Regions from separate parts of the Homo sapiens genome. Here regions 1, 2 and 3 are each linked to region 4. Evidence: fine-mapped expression QTL. A gene starts in region 4. Each other region holds a variant in brackets. All regions are shown on one strand. Distances are between the middles of the regions.

Region 1 (5,151 bases), 31 kb before region 4:
AGAGATCTGGCCTGACTCCATCTTGCTTCTAACCTCCAAGCTGTCCTTGTTCATTCCAGGGCACAGGCTGAACTAACCTTGGGAGGAATTCAGTTTATAGTTCAACTTTGTTTTTTTTGTTTTTGGAGACGGAGTCTCACTCTGTCACCAAGGTGGAGTGCAGTGGCACACTCTCGGCTCACTGGAATCTCTGCCTCCCAGGTTCAAGTGATTCTCCTGCCTCAGCCTCCCGAGTAGCTGGGATTACAGGTGTGCACCACCACACCTGGCTAATTTTTGTACTTTTAGTAGAGGCGGGGTTTCACCCTGTTGACCAGGCTGGTGTCAAACTCCCGGCCTCAAGTGATCGGCCTGCCTCAGCCTCTCAAAGTGCTGGGATTACAGGCGTGAGCCACCCTGCCCGGCCTATAGTTCAACTTTGAAACAAAGGATAACAGCTCTTTCCTGAAATAAACCCCCTTCTTGCCTGGGGACCAGTCTGCCTTTGTAGGACTAACAAATTAGTTACAAGATTAGAAATTATGGTTTTGGAGCCACGGAGCCTCTGGCTGCAAGAGTCTGAACCTCCCCACATTGCTCCTGAGAATAACATCGCTTGTAAATCCTAAGATCAGTGCTTGAGGTATTTTGCAGACCCTGCCTTCCAATGCAGCAGTTGACGCCACCCAGACAGGTAATATGATTCAACCGGCACTTTGATCCCACCCAAGGACAGAAGACAGCAAGAAAAACTCACTTCTACCCCCTATGATTTCATCTCCATGCTGACCAATCAGCAATCCACACCTCCAGAGCCCCTACCCACCAAGTTATCCTTAAAAACTCAAATCCCCAAATTCTTGGAGACTGATTTGAGTAATAATAAAACTCCAGTCTCCTGCACAGCTGGCTCTGTGTGAATTAGTCTATTGCAATTCTCCTGTCTTGATAAATTGGCTGTCTAGGCTGTGGGCAAGGAGAACCTGTGGAGGGGGTTACAAATTTGGGGGCTCATCTGTGATCTCCCTTGTGGCTATCTTCCAGCGATTCAGTAGCCTCCCCAACCCCCCTCACTGGTGATGGATCCAGAGGCCAGCCCAGGCGGCCACCTAGTTCTCTTCGACTGGGGGCTGACACTGGCACCATCTCTACTAATGGGGTGCTGCCAACCCATGGTGTATGGATTTAACTGCAATAAACAGTCCTGGGGAGACGTCCTGTAACTGTAGCCCCATCACAGGGTATCTGTCTGTAGCCCCATCATTGGGTGTCTGCCTGTAGCCCCATCATGGGGCATCTCTAGCTCTATTAGGTGGTATCTGTTTGTAGCCCCAGCATGGGGTATCTGCCCTAATTGTACAGAGAATAGGGGACTTGTTTGGAGGAATACTCTTGGTTTGTGATTTAGTCTGGAAACTCTTTCTGGAAGGTGTTTTGCTGTATGTGTTTGTATATGTGGAGGAGATGTCTAAGGGAATTGCTGAAGGAAGTCCATCAGGCTCTCCTAGTTTGTCTGGTTGGTCACATTCACTGAACCCTGAAGGACTTGTCAGCAGAAGCTCGGAAGTTTGACAGGGCTGCCTCGAGGGTGACCATCCGCTCTTCCATCTGGCTCAGAGACCATCCTTTGAATTCCCGGTGGAAGGCGTCCCTTCCCACCTTGAGTGGAGTGGATCAAAGATGACAGAGACCAACGGGAGCAAGTGTGAGCCTTGCCAAGTTGATGCTGGGCACTGAGCATAGTGACTAGTTTTGTCATGTGTACTCTGCTCTGGCCAGGATGGAAAATGTTAATTCAGTTCCCCATGCAGCCCATTGGGCAGCATCTTGAAAAATTGAGAGGCTTTTGCCTGTGGTTCCATAAAACAGAAACGGATGGTTTTCCTTTGCAATGCGACTTGGCGCCCACAGCTAGCGTGCAGCGATCAGGGTCATCAAGAGCTGCTCCGTTCTTCTGGAAGCTACAGAGAATGGGAACCCAGAAACCTGACATGCAGGCAAAAAGGGTAAACATTTCTTACCAGCCAGGCTTCTGGCCCCTCTCGCCGTGTATGAATGGAAAACATCACTGTTTGTCTCCTCTGCAAGGGTCTGATTAATAGAAAAAATCTTATGAGCCTAGACTTAGGCTGTAGGGAATCTGGTG[C/T]ACTCTGTGCTGTGAATACAAATCCCCAGCTACTCTGGAGGCTGAGGCAGGAAAATCACTGGAACCCGGTGGGTGGAGGCTGCAGTGAGCTAAGATCGCACCACTGCACTCCAGCCTGGGCAATAGAGTGAGACTCCATCTCAAAAGAAAAAAGAAAAACAAAGACAAAGGCACAACCAGCTCTCACATGCCTCAGATGAATCACACATCCTCTCTCCTCACTCAGTGACTTAGGAGGGGGAGTCAGTATTCACACATTAATACGACACACCTTTCTAGAACACCTACTACCTGCCAAGCATTGCTTTAGTAGCTGGAGATACAGCGCAAACCAAACCCACTCACAGCTGCATCCTCTGTCATGGAGAGCAGGACCACAGAATAGGATGTGGACATAGGACCCCTCTAAGCCCGCTGTTCAATCCAGCCTGGCAGACTGGTCAGTTCCAAACTTTGCTCCAACAAAAACCAGATAAGGTTTCCCTCTTCTCTTGTTTTACGTCCTGAAAAACTTGACTTTGGGACCATGTCAGGGTACCCTCTTTTGGTCTCCGGCATCCAGAGGGCATGAATTTTTGGGTTCATGTCGGTAGCTGGTCTGAGAGGACATGTGACAGTGTCATGTCTAGCCTTAAGAATTATCTTGAGTAAAGTCCTGGATTCCCAGGAAGACCAGTGTAACAGCCTTCAGCTTTAGCTCAGTAGCTGAAGCTTTGCTATTTCACAGTGGTAGCCTGGGTCTGGTTCCCAGCTTACGGAATGGGTGCTCTCTGGTTTGTTATTTATGTAAGTTTTTTTTGTGTGCCATTTATTGATTCTTTCCCCACCATGGACAGCTTGCCTTGAAATCTGCCTTAAATTTTCTTTTCTCTAAACTACGTTTGGGGAGATTCTAAATCTTGTAAAAGAAAAAAACAAAAAACTGCTTACCATCCCTTTGAGACATCTTATACTTCTGTAGTTAAGTCATAATCTTAGATAAGACTTATTAATTTTGCTAGGAGGTTACCTGTGGTAAAGTTCAAAAGCCAGAAATACTGGCTGTCTATCCTGGCTAGAGTCTGGTAATAAGAAATTTAAAAAGATTTTGTAAAAAAAAAAAAAAAAAAAAAGAGTTCTACAGTTAAAATCTGCTTAATTAAAAATGGATATCCAAGTTTTATATATATATATAAATTTATAAATATATATATTTATAAATATATATTATATATAAAACATAATATATATAATATATATCATATATATCATATATTATATAACATATATATAATATATAACATATATATTATATATTATACAATATATATAATATATATTATATAAATATATAAATATGTATAAATATATATAAATATATATATATAAATGTGTGCATATATATATATATATATATATATATATATATATATATATATGCACACATTTAAAAGGCCTTTGTGGGCTGGGTGCAGTGGCTCATGCCTGTAATCCCAGCACTTTGAGAGGCTGAGGCAGGGGGATCACTTGAGGTCAGGAGTTCAAGACCAGCCTGGCCAACATAGTGAAACCCTGTCTCTACTAAAAATACAAAAATTAGCCAGGCCTGGTGGCGTGTGCCTGTGGTCCCAGCTACTCGGGAGGCTGAGGCACGAGAATCACTTGAACCCGGGAGGCAGAGGCTGCAGTGAGCTTAGATCATGCCATTGCACTCTATCTAGCCTGGGTGACAGAGCAAGACTCCATTTCAAAAAAAAATAAAAATAAAAATAAAAAAATAAAAAAAAGGCCTTTGTGCTTTTTCTCTTCCTGGATTTTTTTTTTTTCTTCGAGGAATGAGTTTTTGTTTGTCTTTCTTCTCAGTCAACTGAATTATTTCCCCAGTCTGTCTTCCTGCCACTCTGAATGCCCACATGAGAGGACCTAAGGTACTTTCTGACAGCTGGGGACTCCTTGGGAAAAAGAGAGAAGGCTCCACAGACCCTGTTTTGGGAGAAACTCTGTTTTCCTCATAAAACCCCAAGAAGTGTAAGCAGACAGACCCCTCTCAAAATCTAAGGCTCTGTTCTGTTTTGAATCACATTACTTGGCCTTTTTCACTTTTGAGGGCATCAGGAATTACTTTAGTAGGGGAGAGAGATATGTGAAAAAAGTTGAGGCTATAAAGATGTATTTTTGGTAAGGATGATTATAAAAAAAGAAATTTATATGAGAAAAGATCTTGTATGGTAAATTCTTGTCCTAAAATAGAACGACTGATTATTCACGAAAGAGGGACACATAGGACAAGTCAGACAGTCCAAGCATGGCATAGATGGTCTCTGTGAGTCGTGACAAGATTTGTAAAATGGGGAAAAAAAACCCCTAAAAAATCAGCAAATGAAAAATCTTAACTAATGCATCTTCTTCGGTCTATATATTTATAATGTTGTGTGTGTGATGTTTAAGAGCTGTAATTAATTGGCTTAAAAAATAAGCACTTAAATATTTTTTCAAAGAAATAGCAACTCTAATGCATTTTAGTTCACATGACGTTAGTAATCTTTGGTAAATAAAGATAGTTTTAAAGATTATTGATGAAATAAAACTGTCTTCATTTGGTCTGAATTAGGCAGATCAGATACTGTTTCTGCTGGATGCTTTAAGGTCATAAGTGGCTTCTGTGACTTTTGTAATTGTTCAATTTACCTACTTTAGAGCCATTAGATTCCAGATAAGGCCTGGGGACATATGGAGGTAGCCATGACTCCTAGCTAGGCCAGAGAGAGTCAGACTTTATCTGCAGTTCTGTCCTGTATTCTAGGCTCTGCACTTGGTATGTAATTAAAACTGCTTAAAGACATGGGAATATGGGTTTTTTTAAAAGAGAAAATCTTCTCTAATTTAGAGAGTTTAAAGATTATTTTTGGTTGAAAGACAAAATAAAACTGAAAGTTTAAGCAAATTGTAGGTTTGTGAAAAATTAACTTTGTGAACAACTCTGTGTGTGAGCAAGCTGGCTAAAATCGAAAGGGTATTATTTAATTTTTTCCATAAATTAAATATTA
Region 2 (5,151 bases), 65 kb before region 4:
CACCCTGGGCTCCCTCCCTTGGCCGGGCACTCATCAGAGCCTGGGGGCTGACTGGGGAAGGGGGTGCATGGCCAGCTGGGCACCTCCTGGTGCAGCCTCTCCCCCTTACCCTGCTGGCTTTTTCTCCGTAGCATTTCTGCTGTCTGACTTACTCCGTATTTCACCAGGGTCTTTGTTAGCCGGGCGACCCTGGGCAAGTTACTTGACTCTTTGTGTCTCCGTTCTCCCATTAGTGAAATGGGGATAGAATGAGCTGGGCTGTGTGAAGTGTTGTAAAGTAGTAAGCAGAATGGCCCCAGGACACTGCTGTGGTGGTGGTAGTCATGGTCTGTCCCACTCCCTTATCTGTTGGTTCAATAGGAAGTGGCAGAGTTCATCAAGGTCCCCTGTGGCAGCACAGGTGCCCAGCGTGCTGTGCGGTGAGGTGAGGCTCCCCGCTCCATGGACGTGTGCATACAGACGGCAACAAGTTCACGCATGCATACACGTGTATGCGCTCAGATGCAGAGACAGCCATGTGTGGGCACATATGTATGTGTACACATGCGTATATACACAGCACACACATACACATGTGCATACACCTACATACCTGTGCACAAACGAGCACACATGTACATGCAGCCTGGCAGTCATGACACCTTGGTCGTGACATTTGGTCGAAGTTTGTTGCAGGCCAGAAGCTCATCTGAGTGGCGGATCTGTTTGCAGCCTTCCTCCCTCCCCCAGCTGTGGGGAGCTGAAGGCTAGTCACAGAGGGCAGGCCCTGTCTTCTGCTGGGGACACTCCAAGGCCATGCCTGGTATTGCTGGGAGAGCAGTGGCTGGCTGGAAGCTGGGACTGTGCTGGTGGGCGGGGCTGCTGTGTGGCCCCATCCTTGTGTATGTGTGTATTGTGGAGGGGACACAGCAGAGGCTGGCCAGGGCCTCAGAGCTGGCTTCTGGGTGCCTGGTTACCCGCCCCCCAGTTGTTTTCTTTCCAGCTGGACTTTGCCCGGCCCTCCCCCGCACTGAGGCCATTCACTCCTCTCTGCTGGGCCTACTGGGGAGTGAGTGGCCCTTGGCCAGGCCTACTCTGGCCACCCCAGCTTGGCTTCAGCCCAGATGGGCCATGAGAGGCTGGATAAAGCTCCTGGGTCTCCCAGTTGGCACTGCCCCCGCCCCTAGTCACGTCTGCTCCGTGCCTCAGTTTCTTCCACTATCAGGTGAGCAGGAATGTAGCCACCTCCTGCTGGGCTGGGCATGGTGCTGAGTGCACACCAATGCAGTGGCAGCCAGCTGGGGCTTTGGGTCCTAATGCTGGCAAAGAATGAGGCTTGGAAGCTGGGTGTGGTGGCTCACGCCTGTAATCCCAGCACTTTGGGAAGCCAAGGTGCGCCGATCGCTTGAGCCCAGGAGTTTAAGACCAGCCTGGGCAACATATTGAAACCCTGTCTCTACAAAAAATGAGCTGGTTGTGGTGGCACGTGGCCGTAGTCCCACAACCCAGGAGGCTGGGGTGGGCGGATCACCTGAGCCCAGGAGGTTGAGAGGCTTCAGTGAGCCATGATCGCGCCACTGCATTCCAGCCTAGGTGACCAAGTGAGATCCTATCTGAAAAAAAAAAAAAAAAAAAAAAAAAGCCATCCTTGTGGCCATTCCTGGACCGTCTGGAGACCCTGCTCTGTGCCAGTGCCTGTGCTGGGCCCTTGGGACACAGAGGGGCCCTGTGCTGCCCTCAGACTCCTCACCCCTACAGGCCATGAGCTTCCAGTGGCATCTCTGAAGGATTGGGTGCACTTGGGGTGTTGAGGGGGCTTGGGTGGAGAAAGAAGGGGGCCCCCATTTTGGGTCTGTGCCATTCACCCAGGGGAAAATGGGTGTGACAAATGGAAGATGCAAGGAGGACGACGATGGTGACAATGACAGTGATGATGATGATGACGCGGCATGATTCCTGAGCGGGCCCTACCCTTTCCACCGCCTTTCCTGCCTCCCATTCCTAGTCCCCCACCCATCACATGGTTTCCCCACTGGCCTCAGTCCCACCCGGGCCCTCAGGGCCTTTGCACAGGCTGTTCCCTATACCTGGAACAGCCTCCCTCCGTTTTGCAAATGGCTACCCCTTTCTTGCTGTTCAGGGTCCTGCAGGCACCCTGATTAGCGTGTGTATTCCCACCCTTCTCCCCCTATCCCCTTCTGTCTGTTTCTTTACAGCCCTTTTGGGATCTGTAATGATCTGGTTTATGTTTATTTAACTGTTTATTCTCTGGCTTCAAGTTCAGCCCTTTGTCTCTGGGGCCTTGAACAGGGCTCGGTATTGGGCACGTGTCTGTTGAGTGCCTTTATGATGACAATTATAACAACAGTCGTAGCTGACAATTACTGCTCACTGGACCTGGGCGGACAGTGTGCCCAGTGCTTAGTGTGTATTATTTTGTTTTCAGTTCAGCCTGATGGTGTGAAATCGGGACTATTATAATTCCCATTTTCCAGATGTGGA[A/G]ACTGAGGCCCAGAGAGATTAAGTAACTTGTACAAGACCACACAGCAGGCAAGGGGTAGGATTAGAAGTCAGCTATGCTTCATTAGCCGGGCGTGATGGCGGGCACCTGTAACCCCTGCTACTTGGGAGGCTGAGGCAGGAGAATCACTTGAACCCAGAAGGTGGAGGTTGCAGTGAGCCGAGATTGTGCCATTGCACTCCAGCCTGGGCGACAGCAGGACTCCATCTCAAATTAAAAAAAAAAAAAAAAAAAAAAAAAAAAGTCAGCTATGCTTGACTCCAGGAGAAAGGAGGGAGGGAGACTTTGGATAGAACAAGGCAGGGCAGTGTCTCTAACTGTGGAGTTGCGAGGCCACTGCTCCCATCTGCTGTCCTGGGAGGCCTGGACAGGGCCCTCCCCTCCCAGGGCCAGCCTCTTTCCTGGAACTCTGGGCGTTGAACATTCTAGGACTCTATGACCTGTGCTGGTAGGTCATGCGGGGGCCCTGGCCCCCAGGCCAGCAGCTGGGGCCTTTTTGAGGTGGGGGCTCCCCGGACTCAGGAGTTCCTCCTTGGCCGCGGCTGTAGCTGAGAGAAGGGACAGGAGGTAGGATGCCACCTCCTCCAGAAGGCAAGCCAGCCACCAGCTTCCCAGCCCGACAGAACTGAGGCCCAACGGGAGAGTGCAGCAATGTCTGGGGAGGGGTTCTGACATTTCAGGGATGGGGCATCCCTTCTCCTCTGAGCAGTCGGGCCTGGTTCTTGGGTGGCTATGCTTGAAGGCGGTTCGGGGGGTGCGGTGGGATTTTTGGGTGATGTAGGTTGAAGACTCCTATAAATGAGGGGACTGGGGGGGCAAACTGAGGTTGAAGGTTGTGAGAGCTTCATTTCTTTCCATGAGCAGCTGGAAACCTGGATTTTGAGGAAACCCCCTGGGATGTTTAAGATAGTTCAGGCCGGGCATGGTGGTTCATGCCTGTAATCCTAGCACTTTGAGAGGAAGAGGTGGGAGAATCCGTTGAGCCCAGGAGTTTGAGATCAGCCTGGGCAACATAGTGATACCCTGTCTCTATAAAAAAAAAAAAAAAAAAAAAAAAAAAAAAAAAAAAAAAAATTAGGCATGGAGGTCAAGGCTACAGTGAACTGTGATTATGCCACTGCCCTCCAGCCTGGGTGACAGTGAGACACTGTCTCAAAAAAATAAAAGTTATTTATTTTTTTTTGAGACGGAGTCTCACTCTGTCACCCAGGCTGGAGTGCTGTGGTGTGATCTCGGCTCATTGCAACCCACAGCTCCCTGGTTCAAGCAATTCTCCAGCTTTGGCCTCCCGAGTAGCTGGGATTACAGGCACCCACCACCACGCCCAGCTAATTTTGTATTTTTAGTAGAGACTGGTTTTCACCATGTTGGCCAGGCTGGTCTCCAACTCCTGACCTCAGGTGATCCACCTGCCTCTGCCTCTCAAAGTGCTGGGATTACAGGTGTGAGCCACCGCACCTGGCCCATGCTTCAAATCTAAATTTGAAAACCCCATGGGACCTGAGTCAAACCGATCCAGGGCTGCTGCTGTCCCTCCCGGCTGTGTGGTGTTGAGTGGCGTCCTGAGTTAGTTAGGCTTCTCCCTACTTCATCTCGTACCCCCATCACCAGCCCTGCGCAGGTGCCAAGTGATGCCCACCCAGCTGCCCCACTTTGCAGATTCGGAAACTGAGCCCAGAGATGGGAAAGGACTTACCCAAGGGCCTCTGACTGCTGGACTGTTTCTCTTTCCCCTGAACCTCGAGCTGAGGCCACGTTAGAGCCGACACCTTCATATTCAATGTTCAGTGATTATTGTGTACAGCGAGTGTCCTGCTCTTGAAAAATTGTCAAAAGCACAGCAGCAGCTAGGGAATTCCCGCCCTCCAGCTGGATTTACCGGTACATACTAGGGGTCACAGAAGGAATTTGATTTCATAACAGCGTGGTGACCCGGGCTGTGTGGAAATTCACTGGGCCTGATGGAGCTGGATGCAGCCTTGGAAATTCTCCCTTTCCCTTTGGGCTCTCGCAGCAGGCCCCCCAGTCCTGGGTGCAGGCTTGTGACAGCTGCTCAGGGATCCAAACGTGGCGCTTGAGCTCTCTGCGACGTGTTCCACAGTTCCCTGGAGGCGGACACTGCGTGAGGGTCAGTTTTTGCCCCTGCTTCCCTGTGGTGTCTGGCTCCCAGCAGCGTCAGGGAGGGTCCGTGGAGTGGCTGAGTTTGGATCTAGGTGGTTGGCATTAAAATCTCCCTGGCTTTGGGTTTTCTTTTTTGAGACAGAGTCTTGCTCTGTAGCCCAGGCTGGAGTGCAGTGGTGCGATCTCAGCTCACTGGAACCTCCGCCTCCCAGGTTCAAGCAATTCTCATGCCTCAGCCTTCAAGTAGATGGGATTACAGGTGCCTGCCACCATGCCCAGCTAATTTTTGTATTCGTATTAGAGACTGGGTTTCCCCATGTTGGCCAGGCTAGTCTCGAACTCCTGACATTAAGTGATCCGCCTGCCTCGGCCTCCCAGAGTGCTGGGATTGCAGGTGTGAGCCACTGCGCCCGGCCCCTGGCTTTGGGTTTTCTGCTCACCTTCCTCCTTCCCTCCCACAAATACTATGTGTCCCAAATGTGCCGGGATCCATGCCTTGTGCTGGGGACACAGAGGGGACCGATGCCATC
Region 3 (5,118 bases), 56 kb before region 4:
TCACAGGGAGAGGCCCCTCCAGGAACTAGCTTCATGCACCAAAGGGACCTTCTTGAAGGCTCACCGGGAGTCCAGGCGTGGTGGCTCACGCTTGTAATCCCAGCACTTTCGGAGGCTGAGGCAGGTGGCTCACTTAAGGTCAGGAGTTTGAGACCAGCCTGGCTAACATGGTGAAACCCTGACTTTGCTAAAAATACAAAAATTAGCTGGCTGTGGTGCCTATAGTCCCAGATACTTGGCTGAGGCAGGAGAATCACTTGAACTCGGGAGGTGGATGCAGTAAGCTGAGATCACACCACTGCACTCCAGCCTGGGCAACAGAACAAGACTCTGTCTCAAAAAAAGGCAGGCTGGGAAACTGGGGAATTTGAGAACAAAGACACGGTGCGGTTTCTGAGACTCCTGGAACCAGGGGCTGCAGTGCTGAGGACCTCAGGAAAGCCCTGCCCAGGCCACCCCTCAACTCGGATTCTCACTCCATGATGGCCTTGTTTCTCTCTGGCTCTCTGGCTTGGACTGGCTGTCTTTACTCTTCAGTCACAAGCCCAGGCTCCCTCCCACATTTCATGTCACCATGTGAGCACCCACAGGTGGCTGAACTCTTTCAGTTCCAGCATCAAAAGTCCCAGGGAAGGAGCTGATTGGGCCAGGGCCTCCTTGCCTAGGACAGAGGCTGGGGGCAGTGTGGCAGCTCCCTCTGGTGGAGGGGCAGTTCTTTGGAAAGAGGTTCCCGGTGGTTGGTCAGATGGTGCCTGCTTTGGTGGCTGTGTGACCAGAAGGGTGGCTGGTGTCTTGGGGAAGGGAGCTGTGTCCCGGTGTGAGCCCTGACTGCTTTATTTATGCCCCCGTAGTGTGGAAGGGGAGTATGTCCCAGTGGAAGGCGACGAGGTCACCTATAAAATGTGCTCCATCCCACCCAAGAATGAGAAGCTGCAGGCCGTGGAGGTCGTCATCACTCACCTGGCACCAGGCACCAAGCATGAGACCTGGTCTGGACATGTCATCAGCTCCTAGGAGATGGTGGAAGCACCCCTTGTCCTGTGCTTGTGGGAGACTTTGCAGGGAGGAGGCAGCAGACACTGGAGATGACATTCTTCCACACGAGACGGGGCTTCAGCCGGGCATGGTCCCTCTCAAGTATCTCCTGGAGGAAGGGGTATGGGGGGCAGGTGTGGGGTGTGGGGTGTTCCCGGCCATCAGCACAGCCTATGACCATTGCAACAACCTCTCACCATCTGAAGAGCATTAAAAGCATTTAAAAAGGAGAGGTGCCCACTGGTGGCTGAGTGGAGGTTCCAACCCCATCCCAGGGAGTGGATCAAGGGTGGTATTTCTCCAGCTGCTCAGACACATGGGCTCAACCCACAGAATCCCTCTTCCTCCTGGAGCTGGAGGCCCCAGATTCCCAGATCTGGCCCCCTGGCAGCCTGACAGGGACCTTGCGTGACTTCTCCAAGGCAAATTTCCACCTAAGTGCCCCTTGCGCCTCTCCTGGGGCCTGGGCAAAGCAGTTTTCTAATTCTTGGCTTGGTTGGTTCTAGGGGAGCTGGCTTGAAGTGGGTGGGGAAAGGCGGGGGTGGCGGTCTTTGGATTGGACGGATGTTGCCTTTTGGTGCCTTTGCAGTGGGAGGCGGCATAGCTGCCTGTCTGGGGAAGACAGTTCTCCCAGCACTCCCACCCCTGGGCACAGCAGGCTGGTACTGGGAGGCTGAACCCCTCTTAGAGCCTGACCTTTTCATCTGCCTTCTGGTTGTGTGACCATCACTCAACAGCCATTTCACAGCCCCTGTAATTATGGCGGCGGGGGGCTGGGGTGGTGGTGGTGGGAAGGGCTTGTGGAGAGGACACAGTCTTTGTTTAAAAACTTTGTCCCGATCCATCCAGAAAAGAGTAGGTAGCTTGCATCCTGACAGCCTGGCAAAGTCAAGAAAGTTGAAGGAGAAACATACCTTTGGAGAGGGGGTTTTCTTTAAAACTAGTGTTAAGAAATGCTTAGGGATTTTTTTTTTCTTATTTTTCATAACTAAAGCTTTCACCCAGAGCCGGCTCTGTTTGCACTTTGCTGCCGACATTGCAAACTTTTTGGCAGGGTGGGAGACTGAGTCTCATTCTGTCACCCAGGCTGGAGTGCAGTGGCCCGATCTCAGCTTACTGCAACCTCTGCCCTCCAGGGTTCTGGCAATTCCGCCTCAGTCTCCTGAGTAGCTGGGATTACAGGCATGCGCCACCACACCCGGTTAATTTTTGTATTTTTAGTAGAGACCAGGTTTCATCATGTTGGGCAGGATGGTCTTGAACCCCTGACCTCAGATGATCTGCCCATCTCGGCCTCTCAAAGTGCTGGGATTACAAGTGTGAGCCATCGCGCCCGGCCTGCAAACTTTTTTGTAGGTATTTCTGGTAAACAAATCCTTAGGTTATCTTTGCTGTGGTTGTGGTTTGGCTTTAGTCATGATTTCAAAGTAGAAATAGCTAGGCATTATTTTTTGAAATATATGACCTATATGTAGTCAAGAATCCACTGAACAGAGGCAAGCAAACCTTTTGGAAACTGGCTTTTGGGCAGACAGTAAACGTCCAGTTTGATGCTGGAAGCATGAACAGCTTCATCAGGTAGGTACTCCTCAACTCTGATGAGTTTGTCCTTTCAGCCTAAGGGGGTGGAAGGGAGTTGTTTGAGAATAGCAAATACGCATGTTGATTGCGAGTGTGTGGAGACAAAGGCAGTTCCCACCACAGTTAGGTCCTGGCC[A/G]TTGTTTCCTCGCCTGCGATGCTCCTTGTACATCCTCACCCTCCTCTCCCGCCTCTGCCTTCTGCTGGGTCAAAGGTGGCCTTTTCTCTCCAGCCTTGAATTGTTCCCTGTTGGCTTCCCAAGGGCCCATCTGCTGGTACAGTCCACACTTCCACAGCCAAGACCCGAGAGGGCTTTCACTGCCCCAAGCCTCTCTCCTGTGACCCTGGGATTCTGTCTTGGCAGAATCCTTTGTCAGCGGCTCTTACTCTGTCCTTCCTGTTTGGCCACAGCTCTTTCAATCAATGGGTATTCTAGAACCGCAGGATGTCAGAGCTGGAAGGGACGCGATACCGGTTTACACAAGGGGAAACTCCTCGAGGCTCTGGGAGGGACGGAGGGTTTTGGTGACAGAGCGAGAGCTAAAATTGAGGATTCCTGAATCCAGATCTTGCCTCCCATCAGCCATCTTTCTCCCAATAAATTTTTGTTTTGTGCAAGGCTATGCGTGTGTTTGTGTGGAGGCTGGCTCACCAAGTTTTTCCTTTTAAGTCGTCAGATAAGGGTGTCTCCCCCAGGTGAGGCTGACACATTCCACGTGGCAGTCTGTTTTTTTTAGGGGATGGTGAATAAGAAGATGGGATCATCTGTTTTTTAGTCATCATTCTCTAGCATGAGAAAGCTTAGCAGAGAGGAGAATGCGGCTTCCTGGCAATAGAAAATGCCAGTAACTTGGTCAGCGGCGCTCCAGTGCCCTGTTGAAGCTTTTAGGATGTGTGAGTTACACCTCATCCCCATCAGCTGTGGGAAGAGAGGACGGGCCTCGGGGCACACTGTCCACAGTCCCTGGCTCATTCCTGCTATAGAAGTGTTTTTTGTTTGTGTTTTTGAGACAAGGTCTCGCTTTGTTGCCCTGCAGCCTTAACCTTGTGGGCTCAAGTGATCCTCCTTCAGCCACCTGAGTAGCTGGGACTATAGGCATATGCCACCATGCCTGGCTAATTTTTAAATTTTTTGTAGAGAGCAACTTGCTACATTGCCCAAGTTGGTCTCGAAGTCCTGTACTCAGACCATCCTCCTGCCTCAGCCTCCCACAGTGCTGGGACCAGAGGTGTGAGCCACAGCACCCGGCCACTGCTATAGACATTTGATGAACGTTTGCTAGGGCTGGGCACAGTGGCTCACGCCTGTAATCCCAGCATTTTGAGAGGCCGAGGTAGGTGGATGGCTTGAGCTCAGGGGTTTGAGACCAGCTGGGCATCATGGCGAAACATGGTCTCTACCAAAAATACAATTAGCTGGGCATGGTGGCATGAGCCTGTGGTCCCAGTTACTCCAGAGGCTGAAGTGGGAGGATTGCTGGAGCCCAGGAAGTGAAGGCTGCAATGAGCTGTGAATGCACCACTGCACTCCAGCCTGGGTGACAGTGACACCCAGTCTCAAAAAAAAAAAAAAAAAAAAAAAAAAAAGCTTGCTGCTCTTCAGGCATGAAGTCAGGGGCTGGAAGCAGATGAGGCTTGAGGGCCCGGGGCTGGCAGAGTCCTAGGACGGAGAGCTTTTCAAGGTCCATAGCAGGGGAGGAAGGGTTTGCTGTTGGGGCAGTGGGAGTGAGGGCAGAAGGTGGGCAGGTGTAAGAACTCCTGTTCTTGGTTTCCAGGAGAGCAGTGACAGGCAGGGGCCACTCTATGGGGTCGCTGTGCTCTGTTGGGAAGGCTTTGCTCTGGCCGGTGTCTCCCAAGGGAGGCAGTGATTTTGGGTGGTGCAGAGATGGACACTTTTCTTGTCAGTATTATACAATGATTTCCAAAGCATATTGGGAAAAAACCAGCCCATCAAACCTGTTTAGGGAGAGCCTAACGTAGGCACTTAGCTCAAAACAATGAGATTTGCTGACTTACTTACTATATGGAGTACTACATGGGTAGCCAAGGAAGGGTTTGGCAAAAGCTGAAGGTGGGGAGCGGGCGTGGTAGCTCACGCCTGTAATTTCAGCACTTTGGTAACCGAGGTGGGCAGATCACTTGAGGTCAGGAGTTCAAGACCAGCCTAGGCAACATAGTGAAACCCCGTTTCTACTAAAAATACAAAAATTAGCTGCACGTGGTGGTGCATACCAGTAATCCCAGTTACTTGGGAGGCTGAGGCAGGAAAATCACTTGAACCTGGAGGCAGAGGTTGCAGCGAGCCAAGATTGTGCCACTGCACCCCAGCCTGGATAACAGAGTGAGACTCTGTCTCAAAAACAAAAAAAAAGGCCGGGCATGGTGACTCATGCCCATGCCTGTAATCCCAGTACTTTGAGAGGCCAAGGCAGGTGGATCACCTGAGGTCAGGAGTTCAAGGCCAGCCTGGCCAACATGGTGAAACCCCGTCTCTACTAAAAAGAC
Region 4 (5,151 bases):
ATGAATGTGATTAAAATTGTACAGAAGGGTTTGTAATAGAGTGCAATCTTTTCTACTCTCACAGTGGAATCTGGACCTATTAGACAGAATCTAGAATTGGAGGAGTGGCCTTTAAAAGTCAGAACACGGTGGCTCACGCCTGTAATCCCAGCACTTTGGGAGGCCGAGGCGGGTGGATCACGAGGTCCAGAGATAGAGACCATCCTGGCCAACACAGTGAAACCCCATCTCTACTAAAAATACAAAAATTAGCCAGGCGTGGTGGTGCCTGCCTGTAGCACCAGCTACTTGGTTGCCTGAGGCAGGAGAATTGCTTGAACCTGGGAGGTGGAGGTTGCAGTGAACTGAGATTGGGCCACTACACTCCAGTCTGGTGACAGAGTGAGACTCTGTCTTAAAAAAAAAAAAAGAGTCAGAACTGTGAAAATCAGAAAATCAGAAGCACTTTCCTGAATGGCATACCCAGTGACTAGAACAGCTTCCACCTTAGCACAGATAGGAAATGGCAAACTTGACAGGAACCAATATCCTGAGGCCCAGAGACTTGTACCAGGTTGGCTGTGTGAAACTGAGGAGGTTAGTTCTTCACTGAGTGTGTTTCCTTATGTTTAAAACGGTAATAACAACTATCCTACCTGGGAAGAAAGATGGAGGAAGGTTGAGAGGGTTCAGTGATATGAAAAAGGGTGGCAATGTAAACCCTAGACCACTATGGCCCACAGACCACATTGGGCAGCTGTTTGTTTTTGTAATAAATAAATAAAATTTTATTGGTACACAGCCACTCTTATTTATATAGGGTTTATGGCTGGTTTTGCACTAAAGTTGAGTGGTTACTATAGACCACATAGTCAGCAAAGACAGAGAAGTATTTGCTATATGGCCCTTTACAAAAAATGAATTGGGGACCGGAGTTTTAGACCACTATGGGCTTTTAACAAACCCAAGTGTGTGATCACTGAATTTCAGAATCAGAAAAAGCCTTTGAAGAACTTGGGAGTTGAGCGTCATCACTAGGTAAATCAAACCTGTGGCTGAGAAGGGCAAAATGATACGTCTAAGGTCACACGCATTTGACCTGGACTTCTGGAGCACACCATTGTTACCACCAAGCGAAAACTATGAGGGGTGAGGGTAGAAGCTGAGGATAGTGAGACCATTGGGGTCCAGTCTCAAGTTGAAATGGCCAGTGTTCAGTGGCCAATTTCTGAAAAGGGGCCAGGAGAGCCTCACCTCAAGGCTGATCGTAACTGAAACTTATCTGTGCCTGTAGCAGCAAAATCTGAAAGTGGAAAGCAAGTTTCCAAGGGCCCAAAGAGGCTCTCAGCGGGCAGCCTGTAATAACCTAGGGCTCCTCCATCTCCCTAGTCCATTGCAGGGGCTGGAGATGGGTGTGGTGGAGGTGGCTACTATTTACTGAGGCCTAGTGTGTTGTGTCCAACATACTTTCAAGAACTTACACAATCTCATTTGATCCTCACAGACACCATATGGAACAGGTAACATCCCCATTTAAAGCTGTAGATGTTGAGGCTCAGAGAGGTTAATGACTCGCTGAAGGTCACACAGATGTCAAGAGGTGAAGATGAGACTCCACTAGGTCGGTTTGACCTGGAAACCTGTTTTTAATATCATGACTCACGGCACAGCCCATTGGTTACAGGATTGGGGCCGACACATAGCTGATAAGGGGGCCTGATCTTGGGTTGAAATCCTGGTCTATCAGTCCCGAGCACTAGCGGTGAGTCCAGATTACATTTTCCAACCTAGCACAAGTTTCCTGCTCTTAAGAGTTCTTCAGCCCCGTCTCATCTTTCCAAGCACCAGAGCTCTTCAAGAGCTGGTTAGGGCCTCCCTCTCATTCCTCCAGTGCACCCAGAATAGGGTTCAGCGCCGTGAGGACGTAGGCGGTCCTTAGCCACCCCTTGGCGCCTACCCTGGGTGGTCGATAGCCCCAACTGGGAACAGCACGGGCTCCGCGTCGGCTGCCAGCAGCCCGCCGGCCGCCACTTACCTGCCGCGGGGCGGTGAGGGTCCCATCCACGTCGAAGAGGCAGAGCGCTGGGCCAGGCGCTGCCATGTCCCCAGTTTCTAGCCGCACCTTACAAGACACGTTGGCACGAGGAACTCGGCCCGGAACTTCCGGGTTCGGCCGCTGAGTCGCAGGGCACGTCGGGAAGAGGAGGGGACTCCGTTCCCATAACGCCTGGGAGTAGCGGCAGCCACGATTCCTGGACCGCAACTCCCAGGGTGCAACGCAGATCACGCCCGCCTTGTACATTCGAGCATGCGCTCTTAGGGGTTCCGGGGGCCGGTGGGATTTACTTCCGGCAGCAGGTGGTGGGGCCATGGTAAGGAGGCGGGTGGCGAGCCTTGAGGGGGTGATGCTCTTTGGGGTCGGGGTCAGGGCTGGGGCGGGCAGGCCCGACGCTCGGGTTTCGGACTCCGAGGATCCGTGGGAGGAAGCTCTGGCGTGTGTTACAGTTCGCTTTTCCCGGGCTTTCTCTTGCCCTCCTTGGGTCACATGCGCACAGTAGTAGTAGCTAAAACTCGCCGAGCTCTCACAGTGCATTAGGTACTAAGTTGAGGACTCTGAAACCATCCTCTGGTTCACTGTGTTCTGAGTCCCCATTTTGAAAGGCGAAGAAACCGAATCTCAGGGGTGTGGAGTAATTTGCTCACAAATTACTGTTGGAGCCAGAATTGGAATAAGAGCTTTTACTGCTTCACTACCCACCTAGTAATACCCTTGTGCTACGTGTTGGGGCCTCCCTGCCTCGCTCCTTCTCCTTCTCCGCTGTTTCCCCTTCCCCAGACTAGGCTAAGAGAAAGCAGCAGTTCCCTCCAGCACCCAAGATAGCATATGAATCAAACAGAGAATTAGAAAGTTTATTGGAATAAATATCTCACAGATTTGTTGCTCGAGTTCCCCACTAAGACACTGATTATTTAGTTTCCTGCTTGGGGAAATGTTCACACCCCCTTGTGGATACATTGTCCAGCCCAGAGTTTGTCCTCCCTGGATATGTTTTGAATTAATGACGGCCGCACCTCCTTTCCTGTATTTATTTGGAATTGCCTGGTGGAAGGAGGACTCTGCTGCACTCACTGACTGTGTGATCTTTGGTAAATATCTTACCCTCTCTGGGCTTAGTTTCCCTAGTGGTAAAGTGGAAATAGTGATAACTATCTTAGATAGCTGTTGTGATGCCCACATGAGATAGCATCTGGCTTTACCCTTCCCTCGTCTGGCAATAACGGTTACCTTGCAGGATTGGCAGAAGCCTTAGAGTATGGTGCTTTGCAGATGTTCACCGTGTGATTAATGTGGTTGAGTTCCATGAGAGAAATGGTCTACTGTCTCCCTTTCAGGCTGCCCTTCTCCGAGCTGTGCGTAGGTTTCGGGGAAAAGCTGTGTGGGAAAGGCCTCTCCATGGGCTGTGGTGCTGCAGTGGGCAGGAGGATCCTAAGAGGTGGGTGGGCAGCAGTTCACCCATCTCGAAGGAGAAACTACCAAACGCAGAGACTGAGAAATTCTGGATGTTTTACCGTTTTGATGCCATCAGAACCTTCGGGTTCCTGTCACGACTGAAGTTGGCACAGACTGCCCTGACAGTGGTAGCTTTGCCACCAGGCTATTACTTGTACTCCCAGGGCCTCCTCACTCTCAACACCGTGTGCCTCATGAGTGGGATATCGGGCTTTGCCCTGACCATGCTGTGCTGGATGAGCTATTTCTTACGGAGACTGGTTGGTATCCTGTATCTGAATGAGTCTGGCACCATGCTGCGGGTGGCCCATCTGAACTTCTGGGGCTGGCGGCAGGACACATACTGTCCCATGGCAGATGTGATTCCCCTGACAGAAACCAAGGACCGGCCTCAGGAGATGTTTGTGCGTATCCAGCGGTACAGTGGGAAACAGACCTTCTACGTCACCCTGCGCTATGGACGCATCCTGGACAGAGAGCGTTTCACACAGGTGTTTGGGGTACATCAGATGCTCAAGTGAACAACTGGGACCTGGACCTCTGGGTAACCCTGGGTCGCCTGGATTAACAGGAAGGCTGAGGGTGTGGGCAAGGCTGAAGAAAGGGGACTGGGTACTTGGAGACTTTGCCTGGGCCCCTGGGAACATGTGTTTTGTGGTGAATAAATTCACAAGGCAAGAGCTGGTGTACAGGTTTAGGAAAAAGGCTCTAAGCAAGTTCTTACAGCACTTGTTTGTGACATTCAGTCAGATAATGGCCAGAAGTTTTTGTTAAGAGCCAGTTCTTAGAAGAACCTATGCCAAGGTCACCCATAGAGTCCATTGGTGTGAAAGAGAAAGGCAAAGAGGTGTGGCGGGGGAGCGTAAGATTTGGAGTCAGAAGTCTCAGTTCTGTCATTTGTCCTGGAGCAGGTTATTGAGTCTCTTTGAATCTTGGTTTTCACATCTGTAAAATGGAAAGTCCTGCTTGTTTCATGGGATGGGTGTGGGAATAAACAATAAATGTCAAACGTGTGGCAGACTCAACAGCCTACAGCAGATATTATTAAGCATTTGGTCAGAGGTTTTAGCAGGGAGAAAGGCTTCGAGCAGTCAGCAGGGACTTCCAGAGCCCTGTGCTGTGCCCCTCACATATCCAGCGGCAGAAGGGTCTGTCAGGATGTTAACTACACATTGACGAGCAGATGTCGTCCAGGTAGGCACGAAACCCCAGTTGAGATTTGTTCACCACCCAGAGGTCTAGAGGCTCTTGCTTTGGATGGCCCTGCAGTGTAATAAAGCCAAATGCACCGGATGCTGGTACGTTATTTTATAAACTTAAGCCAGTTATATACATTGCCCCACATAATTAATAATATATGTTCATTATACAATTTGTAACACAGTAAAGAGGAAGGAAGGCATGATCTTTATTATTTTGCCACTCGAAAGTCAATAAGAATGTTTTATCGCTGGGGGCGGTGGCTCACACCTGTAATCCCAGCACGTTGGGAGGTCAAGGTGGCGGATCACGAGGTCAGGAGATCGAGGCCATCCTCGCTAACAGGGTGAAACCGTGTCTCCACTAAAAAATACAAAAAAATTAGCTGGGCGTGGTGGCAGGTGCCTGTAGTCCCAGCTACTCGGGAGGCTGAGGCAGGACAATGGTGTGAACCTGGGAGG

Evidence for each region. PIP is the estimated chance that this variant, and not a neighbour inherited with it, causes the effect.
Region 1: its variant is the best candidate, but not a certain one, in a credible set for the expression of PMM2 in lymphoblastoid cells (GTEx, PIP 0.72).
Region 2: its variant is the best candidate, but not a certain one, in a credible set for the expression of PMM2 in whole blood (INTERVAL, PIP 0.69).
Region 3: its variant is the best candidate, but not a certain one, in a credible set for the expression of PMM2 in blood mononuclear cells (TOPMed, PIP 0.58).

The regions. Positions count from the first base shown.
Region 1 is chr16:8,826,112-8,831,262 of GRCh38, reverse strand. The region is part of intron 7 of PMM2 (phosphomannomutase 2); the gene reads right to left. Among named protein-coding and RNA genes, the nearest start is that of PMM2, 31 kb to the right of the region's middle. RefSeq lists an enhancer at 1,184-1,785. The variant C/T (reference allele first, on the strand shown) is at 2,126.
Region 2 is chr16:8,859,582-8,864,732 of GRCh38, reverse strand. The region is part of intron 1 of CARHSP1 (calcium regulated heat stable protein 1); the gene reads left to right. It overlaps LOC100130283 (a long non-coding RNA gene), which reads right to left. Exons shown (of 5, transcript NR_147908.1): 5 at 4,316-4,605. Among named protein-coding and RNA genes, the nearest start is that of CARHSP1, 6.8 kb to the left of the region's middle. RefSeq lists enhancers at 347-506, 4,103-4,817. The variant A/G (reference allele first, on the strand shown) is at 2,482.
Region 3 is chr16:8,851,060-8,856,177 of GRCh38, reverse strand. CARHSP1 (calcium regulated heat stable protein 1) reads left to right here. Exons shown (of 4, transcript NM_014316.4): 4 at 852-3,231. The coding sequence ends at 1,014. It overlaps LOC100130283 (a long non-coding RNA gene), which reads right to left. Exons shown (of 5, transcript NR_147908.1): 4 at 961-1,144. Among named protein-coding and RNA genes, the nearest start is that of CARHSP1, 15 kb to the left of the region's middle. The variant A/G (reference allele first, on the strand shown) is at 2,753.
Region 4 is chr16:8,794,812-8,799,962 of GRCh38, reverse strand. It overlaps PMM2 (phosphomannomutase 2), which reads right to left and starts at 2,124. Exons shown (of 8, transcript NM_000303.3): 1 at 2,015-2,124. The coding sequence starts at 2,080. It overlaps TMEM186 (transmembrane protein 186), which reads left to right and starts at 2,324. Exons shown (of 2, transcript NM_015421.4): 1 at 2,324-2,351; 2 at 3,373-4,783. The coding sequence starts at 2,349. The coding sequence ends at 4,011. RefSeq lists a silencer at 436-485 and enhancers at 1,341-2,035, 2,348-2,397, 2,036-2,730.